7 linked regions of the Homo sapiens genome follow. The protein of the gene in region 6 purifies or fractionates together with the protein of the main gene of each other region. This does not show direct contact. Each region holds a gene or a part of one and is shown on either strand. Other genes may lie near its edges.

Region 1 (3,500 bases), on a different chromosome or scaffold from region 6:
AAAATAAACTTCCCAGCTATGGAGAGGAGGCTGTTTTTGTTTGGAAGAGGCACTCCTGGGCCTTTTGTTAAGACGGGTGTCAGCTCGGAACCAGCAGCCCTGCAGAAGTGCCCAGGATTTTCTTTGTTTAAAAGCAAGTCTTCAGGGTCTGCTGAGGGTGTACGGGTGGTGGGTCTGGGTGGTTCCTTTTGCCGTGGTCCCGGGAGTGGCTGGGCGGGCCACGGTCAGGTGGAGGCCGGGCTGTCCATGGTAGACAGCAGGTGAACGACCTGCGCCCGCTCAGCTGGGCTGATGTGCTGGCTCAGGTATATCACACAGTCCACGGCCACCTCGGGGTTTTCTTCAACCAGGCTGTGGGGGAGGTGAGAGGAGGGCTGGGATCACTCCAGCCACTTTTTCAGTGGCCCCAAGGGTGGCAGAGTCCTTGTGTGGGGCCACACCCCAGAACCCAGAGCTCCCGAGTCCCTGCTGTGGTCCCCATGGGGGTGATGGTCCTGTGCAGCAGGAGGGGCTGTGACCTGAAGTTCAGAATGCCTTGAGGCACCACCGTCCCTACTGGTCACTGCTTTGTGACATGACCTGAGACAAGACACTGCCTTGAGTCTCAGCTTCATCCCCAAAATGGGGTCCCCTGTGCTCGACTCCCTCCTTCACGGGGTGACCCCATGGCAATTGGGGGAGGGGACCCTCTGGAAAGGTCAACACTGGCGTGGAAGACAGCAGCCTGAAGGCTAGCGGTTCCAAATGTGGGTTCTGTGACCAACCCTGCTCCAGCTGTGACTTTGGACAAGTCCATATTCCAGCAAGGTTCATGAGTTGGAAGCATCTCACACGGCCTTCAGAGTACCTCTAGGCTCTCTGTCCCACCCCAGCCACTGTGCTGGGAGACCCGACATTAGGGAGTGTGGTCTCTTTGCTGGGGAGCGGGGAGGGGGCGGGGACAACCCCAGACTGCACAGGGTGGCGGGTTCAAGTGGCTGCATAGGAGTCGGGTAGCTAGGGGTCAATCCAGGCTCGGGTCCTTGCCAGGAGGCTGGGAAGCAGGTGCGGTGGCCACTCACCCTCGGATGGTCTTGAGGACAGAGTCGTGCTTCAGGTACGTGATGTTCTCACGGATGGTGGAGCGCGGGCCATCCCCTGCCTGCCAGTGCTGTTCCAGCCACTGCACAACCACCTGGTTGTTGTCCCACAAGTAGGCCTGGGGAGGGGGCAGAGGATGCCTCAGAGAGGGACCCAGCTGTGGGCCAGCTGTCTCAGCCCCCAGCACCCCCTGTGCTCACCGGCCTCGTTCTCACCCCAGGCCCACCTTGACAGCCCCCTCCGTCTCCACGAACCAGCGACGCAGCATGGACTGGATATGCACGTGACTCAGCTCCCCGCTGGCCTGCAGGATCTCCTGCTTGACCTGGTCCTCCAGGAGGAGGCGGCGCAGACGCCAATACAGGAAGGTGCGTGCGGTCTTCCACTCCAGGATGTCCTGTGGACGAGCCAGGCTTGAATCCCCGGAAAGGGAAGGAGGAGACGGGACACTGGCTCTGACCACACCCATGACAGTGGCTGCCCGGGGCTGGGCCCAGGCTCTGAGATCATTCCCAGATCATCCCAGGCAAGTAAGCTGAGGCTCAGGGAGGAGAAGGCACCTGCTCAGAGGCAGGACGTCACCAGGACTCCAGACTGGCCATAGTTGAAAAAATGTCCCCCATAAAAACCTGGCACCCACTTCTACCTCAACCGACACAAACACAGGCTCGTGTGAGGCATGAGTCAGCTGGGAGGGAGAACAATGCAGCAAGAGAACCAATGAGCACTGGACATGGGTAGGAGGTGACTGTGGGAGTCCTTGCAATGGTGAGGGGTGGGTGAATGCTGGACAGGAACAACGGTTTCTACCCCTGGTCCAGGTCCAAACTGACCGAGCCATCAGACTAGTGGTCCCTGAACTTTGCTGCTTATTAGAATCTCTTGGGGATCTTTAAAAAATACGACCGCCTGGCTTCCATCCAGGTGTTTGGATTTCACTGGTCTGCAGTGCCACCTGGGGATCGGGATTATTTTAAAGTTCCCAGGTGACTCCCACCTCCTGCAGCATTTGACCCATCCCAACCACCACCGCCCTCCCCGCCCCCGAGCCCAAATGTCCTCCATGTTTTGGAAAACAGGGTGGGCTCTTTGCACCCTACACGGCAGCTGTGGCTCTCACAGATATGACGCCCTTCTCCAGCATCCGGCCGGGTGTGTCATGGAAGTCGGCGAACTGCACCGCCACCTGGTGGTAGATGGGGAGCAGCAGGTCCTCGCGAGCCTTTAGCCGGCCCTCCAGGTCCTTTCGGTCCTTGTCGGAGAGATCAGGTTCCCCTGCAGGTGAGCAGAAAGGCCAGTCAAGCCATGGAAGCTGGTCATATGTGATGGGGTGGAGATTTTTTTTTTTTTTTGAAGAAGGCACAAATCAGGATTTGCAGGACAGGCCTTGCCTTGTGAGAGGTCTGAGCTTTAACTCTGATATTACCCCTGCTGCTACACAGGCTGCCCTCAGCCCCCTAGGTCCCCCAGAGTCCACTGGCCTGGCCCCCACCCCAGGCCCATCTTGATGGCCCCCTTTGTCTCAGATCAAATAGCTAGTACAGTCTCAGAAATGCACTCACAATTGCAAGACAGCATTCAACATGCAACTCTACATTTTCCCCTTCCATCAGACCCATCGTGCTTGTAGGATACTATATCAATGATTTTTAGTACACATTGTAAAATATGATAAGGGAATATTATAAGCAACTCTATGCCAAATTGACAACTTAAGATGAAATAGACAAATTCCTTGAAACACACAAACCACCAAAGCTCACCTAGGAGGAAACAGATAACACAAATAGTCCTATATATAACAAAGAAGTTGAATTTATAGGTAAAAACCTCTATCAAAAACATAAAGAAATAATGCCAATTCTGCAAAAACTCAGAAAATAGGAGCGAACACTTCAACTCATTCTATGAGATCAGCATTACCCTGATACCAGCCAAAGAAATTACACGCACACACTGTAAAAAATCTTGTGAATAGCACAGTTATAAAGACACTGACACTTAAAATGGATATTTAAATATCATCTTGTGGCCAGACTTAGTGGCTCACGCCTGTAATCCCAGCACTTTGGGAGGCTGACGCAGGCAAATCACTTGAGGCCAGGAGTTCAAGACCAGCCTGGCCAACATGGTGAAACCCTGTCTCTACTAAAAACACAAAAATTAGCCAGGTGTGGTGGCACACACCTGTAATTCCTGCTACTTGAGAGGCTGAGGCATGAGAATCGCTTGAACCTGGGAGGCAGAGGTTGCAGTGAGCTGAGATTGCGCCACTGCACCCCAGCCTGGGCAACAGAGCAAGACTCTGTCTCAAAAATAAACAAATAAATAAATAAAGATAATTACATCTAAAGATGACAAGTAAAACAAAGCTGTCATTCAAACAAAATTAGTAAAATATCTTATCTCTGATTGGGAAT
Region 2 (3,500 bases), on a different chromosome or scaffold from region 6:
AAAAACTCCAAGTTGTATTACTAAAAATATGTTTTAAGTTCTATAAAATGGGTATAAATATGATGTACACATCAATTATACAGAAAACCCTAGTTTACCACTATGAAGTACATATACAGGAAAAAAGCACTTTGCTACACTCAGAGAGTGTGCACTTAACAAATCGTTCTTATTGACAAATATGAAGAAGGATAGTATTCTGTAAAAACTGAAAAATACCTAAATACAAAAAAAAATTCTCATAATTCCACCATGCCAGATAAACAACTATTATTATTTTGTTTTTCTTTTGCAGTGGAGTCTCACTCTGTCACCCAGGCTGGAGAGCGATGGCATGATCTCGGCTCACTGCAACCTCTGCTTCCCAGGTTCAAGCGATTCTCCTGCCTCAGCCTCCCAAGTAGTTGGGATTACAAGCACCCACCACCATGCCCTGCTAATTTTTGTACTTTTAGTAGAGACGGGGTTTCGCCATGTTGGTCACGCTGGTTTCAAACTCTGGACCTCAGGTGATCCGCCCACCTTGGCCTCCCAAAGTGCTGGGATTACAGGCATGAGCCACCACACCCAGCCCCAGATAACCAATTATAAATCACTTGTTTATATTTGATATATTTCCCTCCAATCCTTTTTCTAATCAGTGCATATTTTTATATGACTGTAATTATACCAAATACACAATTTCTTTAAAAACATTTTGTAAAGTAAAACCTGACCCAGATCTCCTCCCTTCATCTTCTCCTGCCTCACTGAATTTCAGGAATAAATGGGGCTGTTGAGAGGTCTACTTCCTTCTTTGTAGGCATGCTATCAATATTCTTCACACTTCATTAAAAAGCCATAAAAACAATTACAACATCATTAGCACAGCCTTTTTAAAAGAAGCTTACTAAGGCTCACATAATGACTAAGTCAAACATAGGACAGTACTCTGCTGTTAGCTTCTGATCCCTGAACACTGGTAAAACCAATGAATGGGGACAACAGGCAATCAGAAATGAGGTATGAATATGAAATATAGTATACAGGAATGAAAAATTAAGCAGTGCGTGGGATCACCTGCACTGGGCTCTTTAGGGGTTTCCAAAATATAATGAATGCACTACTCTGCTGCTAGAAAAGAAGAGTACTTGCAGGGTAACATACTTACCGCCCTTAATGGACCAAAGTAAGCATTAAGGGTATCTTTATTAATAAATTTTATGTTTTAAAAGTAGTTTTAGGCTCACAGCAAAATTGAGAGGAATACAGAGATTTCCCATGTCCCCTCTGGCCCCCTATACGTGAACCTTCCGCCCATTATCAACATCCTTCACCAGAGTGGCACATTTGTTACAACTGATGGACCTACATTGACACCTTATTATCATCACCCAAAGTCCATCGTTTACACTAGGGTTCCCTCTTGGTGTTGCAGATCTATGGGTTCCCACAAATGTATAACACTTATACATTTGTGTATAACAAATACACACAAAAAATTTGTGTTAAACAAATTTGTGTGTAACACAAATGTATTCACCCTTACAGTATCATAATGAATAGTTTCACTGCCCTAACAATCCTCTGTGCTCTGCCTATTCATCCCTCTCTTCAACATCTGGTAACCTCTGACGTTTCACTGCCTCCATAGTTTTGCCTCCTCCAGATATCAAATTGTCGGAATCACACAGTATGTAGTCTTTTCAGACTATCCTCTTTCACTTAGTAACATACATTTAGGTTTCCTCCATGTCTTTTCATGGCTTGATAGCTCACTTCTTTTTAGTGCTGAATAATACCTATTGTCTGAATATATCTCACTTTACTTATTCATTCACCTACTAAAGGACATCTTGGTTGCTTCCAAGATTTGGTAATTATGAATAATGCTGCTACATGTGCAATTGTGTGGACACAGGGTTTCAACTCCTTTGGTAAATACCAAGGAGCATGATTGCTGGATTGTATGTTAACAGTGTGTTCAGTTTTGTAAGAAAACACCCAGCTGTTCCAAAGTGGCTGTACCATTTTGCATTCCTACCAACAATGAGAGTTCCTGTTGCTCCACATCCTTGCCAGCATTTGATATCATCAGTGTTCTGAAATTTTGGCCATTCTAATAGGTGCATAGTGGCATCTCATTGAGAAGATGCAATATTAAAACAAAAGCAGATGCATGTATCTTAACATGTATACCTCTTCCTATTAATGTAGTATAATATTATATGTAATGGAAATGACATGAGAATGGATAGCTGAATATCTGTTTATTTTATAAGAAACATACCTGTTGATGGAAACTATGATTCCATTACAAACAGGGCTACTTCATAAGAGTCTTCAAAATATAACAAGATTATCCCATCCACCATCATTTTTTCTTCTGTTATATTCAATATTATCAAACTTAAATATGATAATACAAAAATCCTTCTATGTGCTGGGTAGAGGGTTTACAAAAAGCAATGAAATGGAAGTGCAGGAGAAAAATTTAAAGCTATACTAGCTTTAGAGAGCAACAATCCTAAAATAATGAATTAAAATAAAAAATTTCTTTAAATTACAACATACCATTGCTCTAGGATTTAATTTCCATTTTTCTCACCTTCAAAATAGCTTCAAAGAGAAAAACAGTCATACCTCCTGCAGTGTCCCATCTCCTCCTGCAACAATGATCACATCCGTGTTTTCCATCAGTTCCAGGAGTTTCTTGGCTTGTCCCTCATAATCTGTCTGAAATACCAAGGAAGCCTTTGGTGAGTTTATCAACCTAGAGCCACAAGGTTAAAGGTTTAAAAATGTGGGATATCTTCTTTAAAGTTTTACATTGACTGTCTTCGTAAATTTTACATAACTGATAGACATGAAAAAAATAGCTATCAAAGCAATTATGTATAGTCGTTACAGTTTTACACTTTTAGAGCCAGAGGGACCTCAGAAACCATCTAGTCAGCTCCATACTTTGAAAATAAAATTCAAACCCAATAATTTGTCTCTTACACAGCTAGCTAGTCAAGGGCATCATTTCCAGTCAAGTGCAGATTCTATTACATCCTTTATAGGAAGTCAAGTGTACATGCAAATAGGAAGAAGCAGATGTAATGACAAGAGCACAGATGTCAGAGCCCAAGAGACCTGGATTAAATCTCAACTCTGCTACTTTTTAGCTGAGTGACCTTAAATTCTATGGATCTTAATTTCCTCATCACTGAAATTATGTGTGTTGAGGGAGGGAATAATGATAACTTCTCAGTAAACCAGTTGTAAAGCAGTATGTAAAGCAACTGGTAAGGTAACTGTTCATAACTGGTATTGCACTAAATAAAAGGAGGTTATTATTGTTTTGTTATGACCATACATAAAGAAATACAGGTAGGATTCAAAGTAGTCACAAAACAATGCCTAAGACTTACCATTTTTATTGATACCATTTGATTTCAGATACATACATAGACTTCAATGAACCATTTAAGCCACCAATAATATGTATACTTCTAAAACCAAACACTAAATTTCAA
Region 3 (3,500 bases), on a different chromosome or scaffold from region 6:
TTTGATAGAACTGTATTTCACAATCATTGGTTTCCTCTGTAACCCTATGTATCTTTCCTATGTATTTTTTTTTTACTTTTTTATTTTTGTTTTATTTTATTATTATTATTTTTTGAGACAAAGTCTCACTCTGTCGCCCAGGCTGGAGTGCAGTGGTGCAATCTCACCGCAACCTCCGCCTCCTGGGTTCAAGCGATTCTCCTGCCTCAGCCTCCCAAGTAGCTGGGATTACAGGTGCCCACCACAACGCCTGGCTAATTTTTTGTATTTTTAGTAGAGACTGGTTTTCACCATGTTGGCCAAGCTGACCTCAGGTAATCCGTCCGCCTTGGCCTCCCAAAGTGCTAGGATTACAGGTGTGAGCCACCGCATCTGGCTACTTTTTTTTTTTTTTTTTTGAGACGGAGTCTCGCTCTGTCGCCCAGGCTGGAGTGCAATGGCACGATCTCAGCTCACCGCCTCTGCCTTCCAGGTTCAAGCAATTCTCCTGCCTCAGCCTCCCAAGTAGCTGGGACTACAGGCATGTGCCACCACGCCCAGCTAATTTTGTATTTTAGTAGAGACAGGGTTTCTCCATGTTGGTCAGGCTGGTCTCGAACTCCTGACCTCAGGTGATCTGCTCACCTCGGCCTCCCAAAGTGCTGGGATTACAGTCGTGAGCCACTGCGTCAGGTCTTTTATATTTTTTTTCGAGATGGAGTTTTGCTTTTGTCGCCTAGGCTGGGGTGCAATGGCGCAATCTCAGCTCACTGCAACCTCCACCTCCTGGGTTCAAGTGATTCTCCTGCCTCAGCCTCCTTAGTAGCTAGGACTACAGGCATCTGCCAACACGCCCAACTAATTTTTGTATTTTTAGTAGAGACGGGGTTTCTCCATGTTGGACAAGCTATTCTCGAAATCCTGACCTCAGGTGATCCACCCACCTCGGTCTCCCAAAGTGCTGAGATTACAGGCATGAGCCACCGTGCCCAGCTTCCTATGTATTTTTAAAACAGAATCCTGGCCGGGCGCAGTGGCTCACTCCTGTAATCCCAGTACTTTGGGAGGCCGAGGTGGGCAGATCACTTGAGGTCAGGAGTTAAGAGACCAGCCTGGTCAACATGGCGAAACCCCATCTGTACTAAAAATACAAAAATTAGCTGGGTGTGATGGTGCGTGCCTGTAGTCCCAGCTACTCAGGAGGCTGAGGAAGGAGAATCACTTGAACCTGGGAGGTGAAGGTTGTAGTGAGCCGAGACTGGGCCACTGCACTCCAGCCTGGGTAACAGAGTGAGACTCCATCTCAAAAAACAAAAAAAAACAAACAAAAAAACCCAGAATCCTGTTTTGTTTATTTATTTTTTACTTTCTATTTTATCTTTTAAAAGGTGGGGTCTCACTGTGTTGCCCAGGCTAGTCTAAAACTCCTGGGCTCAAGTGATCCTTCCGCCTCAGCCTCCCAAAGTGCTAGGATTACAGGCGTGAGCCACCGTACCTAGCCCTATTTTATTTTATTTTTTTGTGCGTGAGACAGGGTCTCGCTCTGTCATGCAGGCTGGAGTGCAGTGGTGTGATCACAGCTCACTGTAGCTTTGACTTCCTGGCTCAAGCAATCTCTGGGTTCAAGTGATTCTCCTGCCTCAGCCACCTGAGTAGCTGGGACTACAAGTGTGCACCACCACATCAGGCTAATTTTTTTTTTTTTTTTTTTTTTTTGGTAGAGACGGACTCTCACTATGTTGCTTAGGCTGGTCTCGAATTCCTGGGCTCAAGTGATCCTTCCACCTTGGCCTCCTGAAGAGATTACAGACGTGAGCCACCACCCCTGGCTTATTTTATTTTATTTCATTTCATTTCATTTTATTATTTAAGACAGTCTTACTCCGTCGCCCACACTGGAGTGCAGTGGCGCGATCTCGGCTCACTGCAACCTCTGCCTCCCGGGTTGAAGCAATTTTCCTGCCTCAGCCTCCCCAGTAGCTGGGATTACTGGCACGCACCACCATGCCCGGCTAATTTTTGTATTTTTAGTAGAGATGGGGTTTCACCATGTTGGCCAGGCTCATCTCGAACTCCTGACCTCGTGATCTGCCTATCTTGGCCTCCCAAAGTGTTGGGATTACAGGCGTTAGCCATTGCACCTGGCCTGTTTTATTTTATTAATATACATTTGAAATATTATCCTGACAAGAGCTCAACTGCAAAGGGGTGTGAGGCACAGAAAAGATTAAGAGCCCTGCTTTAGGAAATGCTGTTCACGGTCAGTGTTGGCAGTCTGGCCGGGCCCTGTCATGAGTGACCATTCTGGAGAGCCATCTACTTCACAGGCAGAAGCTCTGGGGCCACACAGACTCGGGTTTGAAGCTCAACTCTGTTATTTATTAACTGTGCATCTTGGGGGAAGTCATTTAATCTCTCAGAGGCTTTTTCCTCCTCTAAAAAAGGAAGTTAGGCTGGGTGCCGTGGCTCACACCTATCATCCCAGCACTTTGGGAAGCGAACAGGGGCACATCACTTGAGGCCAGGAGTTCAAGACCAGCCTGGCCAACATGGCGAACCCTGTCTCTATTACAAATGCAAAAAAATTAGCCAGGCGTGGTGGCAGGCACCTGTAGTCCCAGCTACTAGGGAGGCTGAGGCAGATGAATCGCTTGAACCCGGGAGGCAGAGGTTGCAGTGAGCCAAGATCACACCACTGCACTCCAGCCTGGGCGACAGAGTGAGACTCTGTCTCAAAATAATAATAATTTTTTTTAATTAAAAAAATGAAGATAATGAGACCATCCTCTGAATGGGCTATTGTGAGGGATGAGAGACGATGTGTGGCAGTGCCTGGTGCGTGGATGGTGGTCAGAGTGAGCTGTCTGGCTGGGGCACAAGGGTCCTCTCTGATCCCGTTCATGGCAGACAGGATGGCGTTCTACTGCCCTTTGAGCATTTTGCAGGCCCAGATGAGAAGCCAGCAGTGATGAAGGGAGACCTCTATCTTTGGAGGGCCCATTTAACCCCCACAGGCAGCCTTCTGACTGAGCGCGCTGCCCACACTGCTCCTGACCTTGCAGACAGACATCTGGTTGGTGGTGAGGGTGCCTGTCTTGTCGGAACAGATGACAGAGGTGCAGCCCAGGGTCTCTACGGAGGGCAAGCTTCTTACAATGGCATTCTTCTTTGCCATCCGACGGGTACCCAGGGCCAGGCAGGTGGTGATGACTGCAGGAAGACCTGTGGGGAGGGAGGGAGGGTGTGAGGGAACCTGCAAGGGGAGGGTGTGAGGGAACCTGCAAGGGGCTAAATAGTAGCCCCCAGCTGGGCACGTTGGTGCACACCTATAATCCTAGCACTTTGGGAGGCTGAGGCGGGAGGATCACTTGAGGCCAGGAGTTTGAGACCAGCCTGGAAAACACAGTGAGACTCCTCTGAAAATATTTAAAAATTAGCTGGGTGTGGTGGTGATTGCCTGTGGTACCAGTTACCCAGGAGGCTGGGACAAGAGGATTGTTTGAATCCAGGAGTTCGAGATT
Region 4 (4,149 bases), on a different chromosome or scaffold from region 6:
GCTACTTGGGAGGCTAAGGCAGGAGAATTGCTTGAGCCAGGAGGGTGGAGGCTGCAGTGAGGCCAAGATCATGCCATTGCACTCCAGCCTGGGTGACAGAGCAAGACTCCATCTCAGGAAAAAAAAAAAAAAAAAATATATATATATATATATATATATATACACACATATATATTAAGTTAAAACCCTACTGAAATGAAACCAATAAAATAAAATTCAATTTAATTAAAAAATAGTTCCTGAAATATTAATTTTCAAACAATTCTATTTTAGCTTTGACTCTGAACAAAATATAAACCTCAATTTCAAAATATCACAAAGATTGGCTGGGGGCAGTGGCTCACGCCTGTAATTCCAGCACTTTGGGAAGACGAGGCAGGTGGATCACCAGAGGCCAGGAGTTCCAGAGCAGCCTGGCCAACATAGGGAAACCCAGTCTCTACTAAAATAATACAACAAAAATTAGCCGGGTCTAGTAACCCCAGCTACTCAAGAGGCTGAGGCATTAGAATCGCTGGAATCTGGGAGGTGGAGGTTGCAGTGAGCGGAGATCATGCCACAGCACTCCAACCTGGGCAACAGACTGAGACTCTGTCTCAAAAAAATAAAAATAAGGCCAGGTGCCGTGGCTCACACCTGTAATCTCAGCACTTTGGGAGGCCAAGGTGGGCAGATCACTTGAGGTCAAGGAGTTTGGGACCAGCCTGGGCAACACAGTGAAACCTCCTCTCTACTAAAAATACATAAATTAGCTGGGCATGGTGGCACATACTTGTAATGCCAGCTACACCAGAGGCTGAGGCAGGGGAATCGCTTGAATTCGGGAGGTGGAGGTTGCAGTGACCTGAGATTGTGCTACTGCACTCCAGCCTGGAAGACAGAGTGAGGCTCCGTCTCAAAAAAAAAAAGAAAAAGAAGAAAATTTAAATTAAAAATTTAAAAAATCACAAAGACTACAAATACTCAGGTTTAAGCAAATTCCCACCTTTCTTGAATTAACAGTAATTCATATTTGCTTTGTCATAAATGTAGATATTTACCTGCCCCAATGGAATGAAATCCTAAAAGCCTAGTGTTCCCAAATGATGAAGAGAAAGAAACATGCATATTTTAATTTAGAATTTTGATTCAGAATTAATTTTAACCTAGCTGGAGTATACATAATCATTTATGTATTTATTTACTTATTTAAGAGACTGGGTTTCATTGTGTTATCCAGGCTGGAATGCAGTGGCACAACCTTGGCTCACTGCAACTTGTACTTCCTGAGCTCAAGCGATCCTCCCACCTCAGCCTCCAGAGTAGCTGAGACTGCAAGTGCACTCTACCACACCCAGCTAATTTTTGCGGAGACGAACGAGTCTCGCTATGTTTCCCACACTGGTCTCTAACTCCTTGGCTCACTACAGCCTCAAGCCCCTGGGCTCAAGCAATCTGCCTCCCAAAGTGCTGAGATTACAGGAGTGAGCCACCGCACCCGGCCTAGTGGATAGTGTATACTAAGCAACATGTACCCTGCTTTTGCCTAAAACATACTGAAAACATGGCATTGAACACAATCACAAAGTTGGGAGCTGAGAAAAATCATATACTGTAAAATAAATCTGAGATATTAATCTCAAGAAGCTCCTGAAAATGTCTCAAGAACTCCTATGCTGCACTCTCCCTAATAATTTAGACTTTCTACAGATATTTTCTGATCATCTACAGTGTGTCAGGCACCATGCCAGGTACCAAGATGCCATGGTGAGGTATACACAAAACCGGCTCCTGCTTGCAGGAAGCCTACTCTCTAAAACAGTGCTTGCCAAGCTCGCCTGATCACAACTTCGGAGCTTGTTTAAGTTCAAAATCGGCTTCCCTGCTGTGGTGAGCCACAGTCCGTGGCATTTTGATCAGGTGCTCCCAATGATTCCTACGCTCTAACGGGTTTGGGAGGCAAGGGTGGGGGTAAGCTCGAGAGCCCAGAGACATCCCGTCCAGCGGGAGCCCCACCTCTAAAGTCCATGTCGCTCAGCATCCTTCCCCCTGACTAGTGGCCCAAACACAGCACGAAGCTGAGGTGGGTGGAACGCTTTTCAAAACAACGCTCTTTGATGAGCCACCGACAGACTTGCTCGCCTCCGGGGACGAAGAGCTCACTCCTCACAAACCCCACCCCGGAAAGGTAGCACCTGAGCATCCCGGGCTGCGCCGACACCTGTCTCACCGCGGGTGCCGCTTACCGCTCCGGTGGACTCCAGTCCCCAGATTCCGCCCCACGGGGGCTGGGGGAAAAGGGGAGGCGCTGGGCGCATTAGGCGCTGACTGTATACCGACACCCCCCACCCCGGTGTGCGCAGGCCAACACCCATACACACCCTCACACACCCACACACATCCACACACACTCTCGCGGAAACTGAGCCAGGCAGGCGGCGGACCAGGTCCCGCCGCCTCACGGCTCGCGGCTGGGATCGAACCCGGACTGCGAGACGCCTTCCGCCTCGCAGGCGCTCCTCTGCCGCTGAGGCCCGGCCCGGCTCCCACCGCCGGAGTTTCACAAAGAAAGTCTCCCGGCCCGAGCCCCTCACGCACTCACCGGCGCCGACGCCGGCGGCGACTCTGGCTCCCGCCGCCTTCGGCTCCTTGCGGGGGTCGGCCCTTGGGTCGGCTCGGGCGCCGGCGGCGGCGACTGCTCCATCCCCACGGGGCCCGGGCCGCGTCCGCCTCGAGCTAACGGTCCCGCCAGCTAGGCGCGCGCGCCGGTTCCGCGCGCCATGTTCCCGCCGTGCTGCGCGCCGCCGCGGCGCCCCTCACTGCCCCCAAACCGCGCGCGCGCCCCCGCGGGCCCACACATGCACCGCGCACGCGCGCGTTCGCCGCGCCCCCTCCCCGCGCGCCCCGCCTCGCGCCCTCTGGAGCTGGCCGCTGTTCCCAGTGTCTCGCCCACCCCCGCCGGGCCCGTCGGACTCGGCGGGTGAGCGCGCGGTTCCCGGCTCCGCACCGCCGCCTGCCTCTCTGCAGACCACCCCGGACCCGACCCCTCGGCCATTTCCCCACACTGCCGCTTTCGCTTCCCCCACGACGCGGGGCCTGGGACGACGGTCTGGGCCAAGAGGAACTTCCCCGCAAGAAGTGTCGAGTTAAGGACGCTACTAAGGGGGCGGGATCGCCATCGTGGAGGTGTGCAAGCACGTGCCTGCGTCCCGGAGACAGCCAGACTCAACGGAGAAGCTGAGTTCAAGTCCCACATCTCCACTAACCCTTGCGTGTTAGGGTCAGGGCTTCGGGACTTGTTTCTCCTAAATCTTTTTTTTTTTTCTTTTTTGAGACGGAGTCTTGGTCTGTCACGCAGGCTGGAGTGCTGTGGCGCGATCTCAGCTCACTGCGAGCTCCGCCTCCCGGGTTCATGCCATTCTCCTGCCTCAGCCTCCCCAGTAGCTGGGACTACAGGCGCCGGCCACCACGCCCGGCTAATTTTTGTATTTTTAGTAGAGATGGGGTTTCACCATGTTAGCCAGGATGGTCTTTATCTCCTGACCTCGTGATCCTCCCGCCTCGGCCTCCCAAAGTGCTGAGATTACAGGTGTGAGCCACCGCGCACGGCCTGTTTCTCCTAAATATAAGGACTCAATATAATAATAAGAGAAAGCCTCAGCACCGCGCCTAGCACTTAGTAGGTAGTGATCAAGAGAGAAGACCTCTTAAGTGGTTTTAATGGTTAAGGACCACAGGTTCTCAAGAAAGGGAAATCTCAATTCAAGTCCCGCCTCCATCTCTTGAAAACTGAGAAACCTTGAACAAGTCACTCAGAGGAGCCAAAGATCCTTGATTTCTACATGTGCAAAAGGGGAGTGTGGCAGTAGCACTGCACAGGGTTGACTGAGCTTTCAGGGAGATGATGACTGTACGATCATGCCTCTCTTAATCACGGGATGGTTCTGAGAAATGCCTCCTTAGGTGATTGCGTCATTGTGCAAACAGCAAAGTGCATTTACACAAACCTTGTATAGCCTTGTATAGCCTACTACACACCTAGGCTGTATGGCGTAGCCTATTGCTCCTAGGCTACACACCTCTACAGCCTGATACTTTACTGAATATACTATAGGCAATTATAACACAATGTAAGTACTTGTGTACCTGAACATAGAGAAGGTACAGTAA
Region 5 (2,474 bases), on a different chromosome or scaffold from region 6:
CCCAAAACGCTGGGATTACAGGTGTGAGCCACCGCGCCCGGCCAAATGCAATGAATCTTAACTCTAACAGGGAAGTAAGCTGGAAGCCGATGTATACCCTAGTGAAACAAAGTTACATTTCTCATTTCTTCAAGCTGTTAACCCTTTTCCTGTTTAGAAAAAAAGTGCAGCTCGCTGCCAGCGCTCATTTAATTTTACATAAACACGCTTTTTGAGGCTGAAGAAAATCTGACGATTTTCAATATGAAAATAAAATATAAAAACTATTCTTGGCGTTATTTCTAAAGAGAACTAATATTAGAATCATCTGAATCACCAGAATCATCTACTTCAGAAAAATCAGATTCATCAAATGAATCTTCAGCCAACATGAGAACGATGTAACGTCATGTGTAGAAATGCTACGTTTTCTATGATTTGGCATTTTCAATGAAAATACAGAGCAAAATTCCCAAGAGGCAAGGCCAGAGGGCACGATAGTTCACAGAAGTACTTTAAAAGGTGTAGTGTAGTAGGTGTAATGCGGAGCCGGGCGCAGTGGCTCACGCCTGTAATCCCAGCACTTTGGGAGGCTGAGGCGGGCAGATCACCCAAGGCAAGGAGTTCGAGACCAGCCTGGCTAACATGGTGAAACCCTGTTTCCACTACAAATACAAAAGAATTAGCCGGACATGGTGGCGTGCCCTTGTAATCCCAGTTACTTAGGACGCTGAGGCAGGAGAATCACTTGAACCCGGGAGGCAGAGGTTGCAGTGAGTCAAGATCGCATCATGGCACTCCAGTTTGGGCAATAAGAGCGAAACTTGGTCTCAAAAGAAAAAAAAAGGTGTAGTGTGGACAATCTAGTTACAGCAACTGAGGTACAGTGAAGAAGGGAACCACATAATCTAAGCCTATCTTGTGCCAGTGTCCAGTGATGGGGCTAAGTGCCCATCCCTGGAAACTGCTCAAGCTAAGTGTCCTAAGATCGCACTTCTGCACAGCCGTGTGAGTCCTTCCCGTCGGACCCTGGGCTGCCTCTCACTTACCTTCTAATGATGCAGCCCCCTCTCCACATCAGGGCGATGCCACCATAATTGAGAGTCCAGCCAAACTCGGTGGCTGCCTGCCTTAGCAGCATAAAGCCTTGAGCGTAAGAGATGATCTTGGAAGCGTAGAGTGCCTAAAGAGTGACACAGAGACCTACTAGGATTGCCATTAGGAGAGTGACCGCCTTATGTCTACCAGTCTTATTCTCATCAGCAGTGGAGATCCCAGAAGGGCCAATATTCTAGGAAAACATTGTAAGTCAAGATCCAAGTCAAGGCTGAACTTCATTCCACCTGCCATCCTGTGGCCTCGAGTGTTCTCCCACCACAACCCCCACCCCCACTGCCTTCCGCAGGACCAACAAAGACCACTGCCAGGGACTGTGTCCCACCTTCCGAATGTCCTCCAGGAATGATTTCTTATCACCATCAAACTGGAACTTCTGGGGACCCTTCAGCTTTTTGCTAGCTTGAATTCTCTCATCCTTCAGAGATGATAAGCACCGAGCAAAGACAGCTTCTCCTACATGGGGAGATCGGGAAGAGGAAACAGATTACTGTCAGGCCTCTGAGCCCAAGCTAAACTATCATATCCCCTGTGACCTGCATGTATACATCCAGATGGCCTGAAGCAAGTGAAGAATCACAAAAGAAGTGAAAATGGCTGGTTCCTGCCTTTACTGATGACATTCCACCATTGTGATTTGTTCCTGCCCCACCTTAACTGAGCGATTAACCTTGTGACATTCCTTCTCCTGGCTCAGAACCTCCCCAACTGAGCACCTTGTGACCCCTCGGCCCTGCCCGTAAGAGAAAAACCCCCTTTGACTGTAATTTTCCACTACCTGCCCAAATCCTATAAAATGGCCCCACCCCTATCTCCCTTCGCTGACTCTTCGGACTCAACCTGCCTGCACCCAGGTGATTAAAAAGCTTTATTGCTCACACAAAGCCTGTTTGGTGGTCTTTTCACACGGATGCGCATGAAAATTACCAAAGTTCGCACAGCAACCAGAAGAAAGGTGGAGCAGGAAAGTCTGTTTATACAAAGAGCTGAAAGTTTCAACCTTAGGCCACAAAAGTTGACATGGATCGGAAGGAACTTTTATAAGAAGCTCTAAACAGTTAATTTGATAACTAAAACTCTTAAGACAATCTTCCAATACAAACATGAGTATTCAATCACAAAGATTAACATGAAATTCAAAAGGGAGTTTTGAGGGAAAATGAAGAGATAGAAACCACTGTTATGGCTGGGCAAGGTGGCTAACACCTGTAATCCCAGCACTTTGGCAGGCTGAGGTGGGAGGATCACTTGAGCCCAGGAGTTCAAGGCTACAGTGAGCCATGATCACACCACTGCTCTCCAGCCTGGGCAACACAGTGAGACCCTGTCTCTAAAACCAGTAAAATAAAATAAAAACCACTGTTATGTAGAATACTCAG
Region 6 (3,500 bases):
CTCAGATCAGCAAAGAGGAGCTCTGAGGAGGAAAAGGCTGCCCCAGGAAAGAGCTGGCCATCTCAGATTGCTGTAGCACATTCAAGCCAAAGGGAGTCCCCGGAGGATGTTTCGTCCAGCCCCCATAATTTTAGAGCGGGAAACAGAGGTCCAGAGAAGGAAAGTGGGTCCTGAGGCCACACAGCTAACTAATGGCAGAGTCAGTTTCCAGCCCAGGGATCCCCAGCTGCCTGCCCAGCACTCTTGCTACCCAGGCTGAACCCCCACCCCCGTGCTACCAAGGGGCCCATGCAGGAGCAGGCAGCAGCCACTGGGTAACTTGATGGCTTGGGAGAGGCGGCCTGGCCTGACACATTGGGAGGCTGGGCAGGTCCCCGCTTTGCTCCTATTGTGCTATTTGGGTGCCTCCTGCCATCCCCCTGCATTCTGCTAGACCTGAAACCACAGCCCAGCCCACGCTTGTCAGTCAAGTGCTTCCCGAGGATAAACTTTGCACACAGCACCCAGGCCACTCTTGGGGACCAGGCCACTCTCTGTTGAAGAGATCTAACTAATTTATAAATTGATTGATTGAAGTTCTTTTTGTCCCAGGTAACTTCATGTCTTAGGCCAAAGAAGGGAGTCATGATGAGTGCCAGAGATGAAACGGAGATTCTGGGGCAAAGGGTAGGGGAGGCACCTGGGAGGCCCTGTTCTTCAGGTGATCTTCTCATTAGTGTAGACTTTTGACCCCAGGCAGACATTTACATGTCCAATAGCCACCATCAGAGGTCAGTTCCCAGAAGCAGGAGGCCTGTCACTTGCCACCGGTCACCAGGCCCAAGCTAGACAAGAAGACTTTTTCTATTCCACTAGAGTGGATCTTGCTGATGATGTGTCTGGGATCCAGAAAGGTGGGGAGAAGTAGAGGTCTCAGCTCCTGGGGAGGGATGGAGCCAGCCCCGGGGGAAGAATGCAAGGCCGCCAGTGAGCAGGCATTCAGGGCTCCTGTCGAGGAGAGGGTGGTCAGGACAGGAGGAGGGGCTGCCTCATGGATGATGAGGTCCATCATCCTAGCAGAGGCTGTTGTACCAGCCACTGACGAGGGTGTGGCAGTGGTGTTACCAGAACCCTGCTATGTCAGCGTTCAAATACATGTCCCAGCAGGCCAACCACCCCTGCAGCAGTCAAGGGGTTCTGTCCGGTGTGTGCCAGAATGCTAGGGAAGAGAGGACCCTGAGAAGGATGGCAGCATGGCACAGACACGCCATGTGGCAGTTAGACAGGTCATGCCTTCTGACCCAGGGCACATGCAGAGGTCCACAGACTCTGAGGCCAGCTAGTTAGTGTTCCCAGGGGGCTGCACAGCCCAGAGCCTGTGAGTTTTGTGCATCTGGAGCTAAGGTGTTCTGCCCAAAGTGTTGGAGGTGGGCCTCAGGCAACAAATACCCTGCTTCCTCACATCCCCTTTTCTTCCTTGGAGCTTGGGCCTGGGCCCTCACCTAGTCAGGCACAGGCCTCCACTCCCCCACACTCACCTGTCCTTCCTGAAAGTCAGCCACTGGGCTCCACGCAGGGGTGTCACAGTCAGAGCCCTGCTCCAGCCTCAGACCTGGGGCAGTCACTGGAAACTCAGAAGAGAGAAGACAAGACAATGAAAGTTTCCCATTCAAGGAGGCATCCAGCTGTTAGTTCTGCCAGCAAAAATGCCAGCCAGAGAGCTAAACTGCCAGCAAAAGATATTTGGATGGAACTTTGGAGGCCATTAAGAGCAGGCACTGCAAAGCAATTGTAGCGAAAAGATATTAAATGAATCCATCACGTCTCTAAAATGAGTGTCCTTACCACAGATCTGGCTCTTGCTGTTCCCCAGCCCTTCCCAGGGTAGCCCAGGATGCACCTGGGACGGGCGCCGCAGCCTGCAATGGTCCCTGCATCTGAGGAGCTCCTCCCAGGTCACCAGGCTCCTTGGGACTGTCAGGCAGGTTTAGCCCCCAGTGTCAGCTTGTGTTTGGGGAGGATGGTTTTATATATTCTCGTTGGCACAGGAAGCCTAGTACAGATGCAGAACCTGAGGGAAAGGCAGGCAGAGAGAGAGAGGCTCGAGGTTCTGCTGAGGCCCAGGGTATCAGCAGGGCACATCTGTACAGCAGCCGGGCGGGGACCCATGGACTTTTCCAAAACACCTAACCAGGCCCTAGACAGTGCTACCCCCTGGCGCTGGGCTCTCTTTCCGGAACCCGGGGTGAACAGACCTGTTGGGTTGATTTAGTAGCAAGTGGTAGCCTTGTTTTCTGGACGAATCCTGGGATTCTACTCCATGGCACATCAAACCAAGCTCCAGTGTGCATGCCCAGGGTCGGGGAGGGGAGCTTTCTCCTTGGTCCCTTCTGCAGCTGTGAGGGCTGAGGGTTAAGAACCTTTCACCCCGTTTGGGGGTGCTGCTCCTCCATAGCCCTGTACCCCAATGCTCTAGACTTCATTATTCCACCACCTTCCCCAGGGCGGGAGGTACTCTTTCCATTACATGCATCAGGAAACTGAGGCCAGAGACATGCTGTAAGTCTTGCGAGGCAAGAGGGCTCCCGTCCGCAGGACTCCATGGCTCTGCAGCTAGACTCCGTCAACTTCCCTCCTGCCTGGGGACCCCAAGGGCCTGGCAGTGTCAGCTCCCTCGGCTCACACTTCCAGATGCTCGGAGGTTCAGAGGTTTGCACCTCCCTCTTGGTCCCATCAGCAGAGAGAGATGGGTGGTCCCATCAGGGTGAGGAGCAGGAAGAAGCAGGTGCTGGACAGCCTGGAGGAGAGGGGGAGGAAGGGATTTTCTCCCAAGAGTGCCTCTCTCCCAGGCTTCGGGCTCCAGGGTGAGTGGGCAGCGACCCCTCTAGGAGCCCCAGCTCCACAGGGCTCCTCCTGCCAAGCATCCAGCACACGTGCCCCCACCTCCCCGGCAGGTCCTGCTTGAGGGCCTGAGGCGACTGGGCCATCTGGGTCTGTGAAGGGCAGATGTGGGATGCAGGAACTTCAGGCAGGGTGCTGGCTTGTGGCCAGGAAAGCCTAGCACCTGATTCCTAGCAGGGAACTCAGTGACAGAGTGGGGGAACCTGAGGGCCCCTCTGCCCCTCACACCCAGTGCCATGTGGGGGTCCTCGCGTGTTACACAGAAATAGGAAGGGACGGTCCTCCTACCCGCACCCCAGCCCTCTTGTGTCTCACGTGACAGCCTGCCTGGGCAGTGATTTTTTTAAAACACAAATGCCTTATATTAAGGTCTGAGTTGGTCTCTCCCCACTGCCCGTTCAAACATTCCATGGCACCAGCAGCCTCTAAGCAGCAGAGTTGAGAGAACCAGCTTTGGGGTCGGATACACTTCCGTTCAAATTCCAGCTCCTCCCCTCAGTAACTGGCTTACTTAGTCTTTCTGGACTGGATAACAAAATACTATGGACTGGTGGCTTATAAACAACAGAAATTTATTTCTCACAGTTCTGGAAGCTGAGAAGCCCAAGAGCAAGGTGCTG
Region 7 (3,500 bases), on a different chromosome or scaffold from region 6:
CTTGGCCTCCCAAAGTGCTGGGATTACAGGCGTGAGCCACCACACCCGGCCTAATTTTTAAATTTTTTGCAGAGATGAGGTCTCACTGTGTTGCCTGGACTGGTCTTAAACTCCAGCCTCAAGTGATCCTCCCATCTCGGCTTCCCAAAGTGCTGTGATTACAGGCGTGGGCCACCAAGCCTGGCCTAGTTTAATGAATTATTATAAAGAAAATGCCTTTCTACTCATGACCTATGTCAGGAACTAGAACCTTGCTGGCCACCAGAAGTCCTCCACCTCTCCCTCCTCTCTCACAGACCCCTCTCTCCTCCCTAAGAGGAAGCCCTTTGCCTAGTATTCCTTTTTTTATGGCACTTTTTATGGGCATACTGCCTTACTTTCCTTTATAGTTTTATCATCCAAGTGTGTGTCATTAAACACTACAGCATGGTTTTTTGCATTATTTTTTACTTTTATTTTTTATTTTTGGAGATGGAGTCTTACTGTCACCTGGGCTGGAGTATAGTGATGTGATCTCGGCTCACTGAAACTTTCACCTCCCAGGTTCAGGAGATTCTCATGCCTCAGTCGCCCGAGTAGCTGGGATTACAGGCACGTACCAACACACCCGGCTAATTTTTGTATTTTTAGTAGAGACAGGGTTTCACCATGTTGGCCAGGCTGGTCTTGAACTCCTGGCCTCAAGTGATCCACCCGCCTTGGCCTCCCAAAGTGCTGGGAGTATAGGCGTGAGCCACCGTGCCCGGCCAGTTGTTTGTTTTTGAAGTATTATTATGGCCCCTTAGATTTGAACATTCTTGATTGGTTTCAGTTAATTGCAGTTATCCTTGCTGAAGCTCAAATCCTGCACTCTTTGGCTTGACTCCAGAGTCTTACGAGCTTCCTCTCTATCTGGAATGATGAGATGTTCTAGGTTCCTCTTGAAGGTTCTGTGCCCCAGACCTGGAATCAGCCATTTCTCCAGGAAGTCCTAGTTTCTTGTGTTGGAAGTGGAACTGGTATTTGTGTGCACTAGGAATGCTCATTGTACTGGGATGACTGTTGTTTCTAGGTCTTTTCTGGGGGCAGAGCTGGGAAATATATTGATCTTTTTAAAGATAAGATACCTCATGAGTTTATACTGATACTTCTAATTAAAATTCAGAACCAAGGGTGTTTACTTCTTCAATATAAGTGTTTTAACTTAAAATACAAGGTTAGTACACAATTTTTTACAAAATTTAAATTAAAACAAACAACTAGACTTAACTCCTAGTTCTAACTCACAGTTCTCAGCCTTTTTCTGTGATCAGCAGACATGAGGTTTCACACACTCTCCCTTTTGTATCAGAGGCTGGTTCTGTTGGGAACTTTGACCCTACCTGTATCAGATTATGTCACGGGACATACGTAGTTTGAAAAATCCTCTTAGGTAATTCCAATGTCCTCCTTCTCTTCCTACCCTACCCCGTTGAGCTCTTGCTGTCATCCCTGGGGTCCCCCTGGTGGCAGCAGACGTCATAGCCTGGGGCCTTTCCTGGCCTGTCCGGACCTGCCCGGGCCCTGGTTTTCCTCACCCTGAAGTGAGCTGGGGGATGTGGTGGGGCAGGGTGAGCACAGGTCATGTGCTTCTTCAGCTGATTGGTGGCCGTGTGTGTTACAGAGCAGTACACAGTGACCGGGCTGATGGAAGCGACCCAGATGATGGTGGACATCGATGGGGACGTCCTTGTGTTCCTGGAACTGGCTCAGGTATCATGGCAGGGGAGGGAATCTACAACAGTCTCAGTTCTACACTCTGCCTGCCCATTGGCTGCGAATGGGAAGGGGTGGAAGATGGTCTATGCGGGAGAACCTGTCATCGGACTGGGCTCTTTGACTGCGCGTAGCCCATCTCCTCCTCCATGCCAGGAAGCAGCTGGGGAACTCCCTGGTGTACCCGGAGGGGAGCTGACCAAGTGGGGAAGGGATGAGGCTTTAGGCAGCAGTAGGGCTGGGGAGGGAACCCCAGGCTCAGGCTTACACATGGTTGCTGCCTGCCTGAGGTCATTTAAGGGGCACTGAGGACTTTCCATCTGAAATTAACCGCCTACTCCCTTAATCCCAAACAAACAAGCCAAATCTCCCACAGTGGCCTTCACAGTGCCAGAAATTCAGCCACCAAAGATTAGTGTGTGGAGTGGAAGCACGGCTCAGGCAGGGCTTGCAGACACCCCTGGGAAGGCAGCTCCCTTAGCTCATTGTCAGTGCCTCCGTGCAGGCTGCCTTGATCCCAGATGTGGAGGAGAGAGAAGTCAGGTAGGTTGAGATCTGAGGAGGGCAGATGCAGTATGAAGCCACTACATAGGGCTCTGGTGTCTGCAGCGAGGATGCCAGGAGTGGGCAGAACAGAGGTGAGATGATGGTGGTGCTGGCGGTGGTGCCAAGGAGCCTGAGGCAGCATCATCATCCTCAGTTTTGTGTGGCCTTGCCTCTGGCGCAGGCTCTCTAGAACTGCAGGGCCTCTGCGTGCCCTGCACCAGAGCTTCAGCTCTGAAGGCAGCTGGAGGTGTCTATGCAGACCCTCTCCCCTGGGGATTTCAGTACAGACGTTCTTCCCTTCTGTCCCCAGTTCCACTGTGCGTACCAGCTGGCCGACTGGTGTCTCCACCACATCTGCACCAACTACAACAACGTGTGCCGCAAGTTCCCCCGAGACATGAAGGCCATGTCCCCAGGTGAGCATCGGGGCCAGTCCTGGCAGTACCTGCTGCCCTCCCCTTAGGGGTGCACAGCTCCCATGTAATCCCAGGGACCCCGAGGCTGCCAGTAATCCTTGACCTTGGGGCTGGGAGCAGCCTGCAAAGGAGCCTCCAGCCAAGCCAAGGGGCCCCAGGAAAAGTGCTGGCCTGGAGGGCAACTCACCCTGCCTCTCTGGGCTTCTCATTCTCAGAGGTATGAAGAGGATACTGGACTAAAGTTGGTAGATTTCAGACTTTTCTGGACAGAATACCGTAAGAAATACATTTCATCTTGTGACCCAGGACACATATAGGAAAATATATACATCTTTCTAATGCTGCTCATGGCCCACTAAATTGATGGTACAACCCAGGAATGGGTACAGGCCACAGCTTGGACCACCCAGGTCTGGGCATCCTCTGAGGCCTCCTGTCTCTTCTTGATTAATTTCTTAGGCCCTAGAACTCAACAGAAACTGCACAGGCTCCAGGGAGAGGTGTCCCTGGCCTCCCTGAAGGGTCTGCCACTCTTTCCATGGGGTCCTCTCTGGGCTCCCTCCAGTCTGCCGTGACCCTCCTCCCTGCTGCCGTGTTTTTGCCTCATGCTGCCAAGTCTCCACCCCGATCTCTCCTTTTCACTACTACAACACTTTTAAAAAAAAATTATTTATTTATTTATTTTTTTGAGACAGTCTTGCTCTGTTGCCCAGGCTGGAGTACAGTGGCACAATCTCGGCTCACTGCAACCTCCACCTCCTGGGTTCAAGTGATTCTCATGCCTCAGCCTCCCGGGTAGCTGGG

The links.
Region 1: the proteins of PAK6 (region 6) and ACACB purify together in Homo sapiens (affinity purification with mass spectrometry, with the first as the bait; one large-scale study listed by BioGRID). This does not show direct contact.
Region 2: the proteins of PAK6 (region 6) and AGK purify together in Homo sapiens (affinity purification with mass spectrometry, with the first as the bait; one large-scale study listed by BioGRID). This does not show direct contact.
Region 3: the proteins of PAK6 (region 6) and ATP2A1 purify together in Homo sapiens (affinity purification with mass spectrometry, with the first as the bait; one large-scale study listed by BioGRID). This does not show direct contact.
Region 4: the proteins of PAK6 (region 6) and TTC28 purify together in Homo sapiens (affinity purification with mass spectrometry, with the first as the bait; one large-scale study listed by BioGRID). This does not show direct contact.
Region 5: the proteins of PAK6 (region 6) and PGD purify together in Homo sapiens (affinity purification with mass spectrometry, with the first as the bait; one large-scale study listed by BioGRID). This does not show direct contact.
Region 7: the proteins of PAK6 (region 6) and RHOBTB2 purify together in Homo sapiens (affinity purification with mass spectrometry, with the first as the bait; one large-scale study listed by BioGRID). This does not show direct contact.

The regions. Positions count from the first base shown.
Region 1 is NC_000012.12:109,263,087-109,266,586, reverse strand, and holds part of ACACB (acetyl-CoA carboxylase 2), read right to left. Parts: intron 2,356-3,500; coding exon 2,201-2,355; intron 1,478-2,200; coding exon 1,307-1,477; intron 1,199-1,306; coding exon 1,062-1,198; intron 352-1,061; coding exon 225-351; 3' UTR 1-224. UniProt on the Homo sapiens protein: Mitochondrial enzyme that catalyzes the carboxylation of acetyl-CoA to malonyl-CoA and plays a central role in fatty acid metabolism.
Region 2 is NC_000007.14:141,610,410-141,613,909, reverse strand, and holds part of AGK (acylglycerol kinase, mitochondrial isoform 1 precursor), read right to left. Parts: intron 2,716-3,500; coding exon 2,623-2,715; intron 1-2,622. UniProt on the Homo sapiens protein: Lipid kinase that can phosphorylate both monoacylglycerol and diacylglycerol to form lysophosphatidic acid (LPA) and phosphatidic acid (PA), respectively. Does not phosphorylate sphingosine. Phosphorylates ceramide.
Region 3 is NC_000016.10:28,888,488-28,891,987, reverse strand, and holds part of ATP2A1 (sarcoplasmic/endoplasmic reticulum calcium ATPase 1), read right to left. Parts: intron 3,202-3,500; coding exon 3,035-3,201; intron 1-3,034. UniProt on the Homo sapiens protein: Key regulator of striated muscle performance by acting as the major Ca(2+) ATPase responsible for the reuptake of cytosolic Ca(2+) into the sarcoplasmic reticulum.
Region 4 is NC_000022.11:28,677,041-28,681,189, forward strand, and holds the start of TTC28 (tetratricopeptide repeat protein 28), read right to left. Parts: upstream 2,801-4,149; 5' UTR 2,684-2,800; coding exon 2,582-2,683; intron 1-2,581. UniProt on the Homo sapiens protein: During mitosis, may be involved in the condensation of spindle midzone microtubules, leading to the formation of midbody.
Region 5 is NC_000001.11:10,416,064-10,418,537, reverse strand, and holds part of PGD (6-phosphogluconate dehydrogenase, decarboxylating), read right to left. Parts: intron 1,552-2,474; coding exon 1,421-1,551; intron 1,163-1,420; coding exon 1,029-1,162; intron 1-1,028. UniProt on the Homo sapiens protein: Catalyzes the oxidative decarboxylation of 6-phosphogluconate to ribulose 5-phosphate and CO(2), with concomitant reduction of NADP to NADPH.
Region 6 is NC_000015.10:40,245,563-40,249,062, forward strand, and holds part of PAK6 (serine/threonine-protein kinase PAK 6), read left to right. Parts: intron 1-3,500. UniProt on the Homo sapiens protein: Serine/threonine protein kinase that plays a role in the regulation of gene transcription. The kinase activity is induced by various effectors including AR or MAP2K6/MAPKK6.
Region 7 is NC_000008.11:23,013,048-23,016,547, forward strand, and holds part of RHOBTB2 (rho-related BTB domain-containing protein 2), read left to right. Parts: intron 1-1,642; coding exon 1,643-1,731; intron 1,732-2,590; coding exon 2,591-2,696; intron 2,697-3,500. UniProt on the Homo sapiens protein: Regulator of cell proliferation and apoptosis. It likely functions as a substrate-adapter that recruits key substrates, e.g. MSI2, to CUL3-based ubiquitin ligase complexes for degradation. Required for MSI2 ubiquitination and degradation.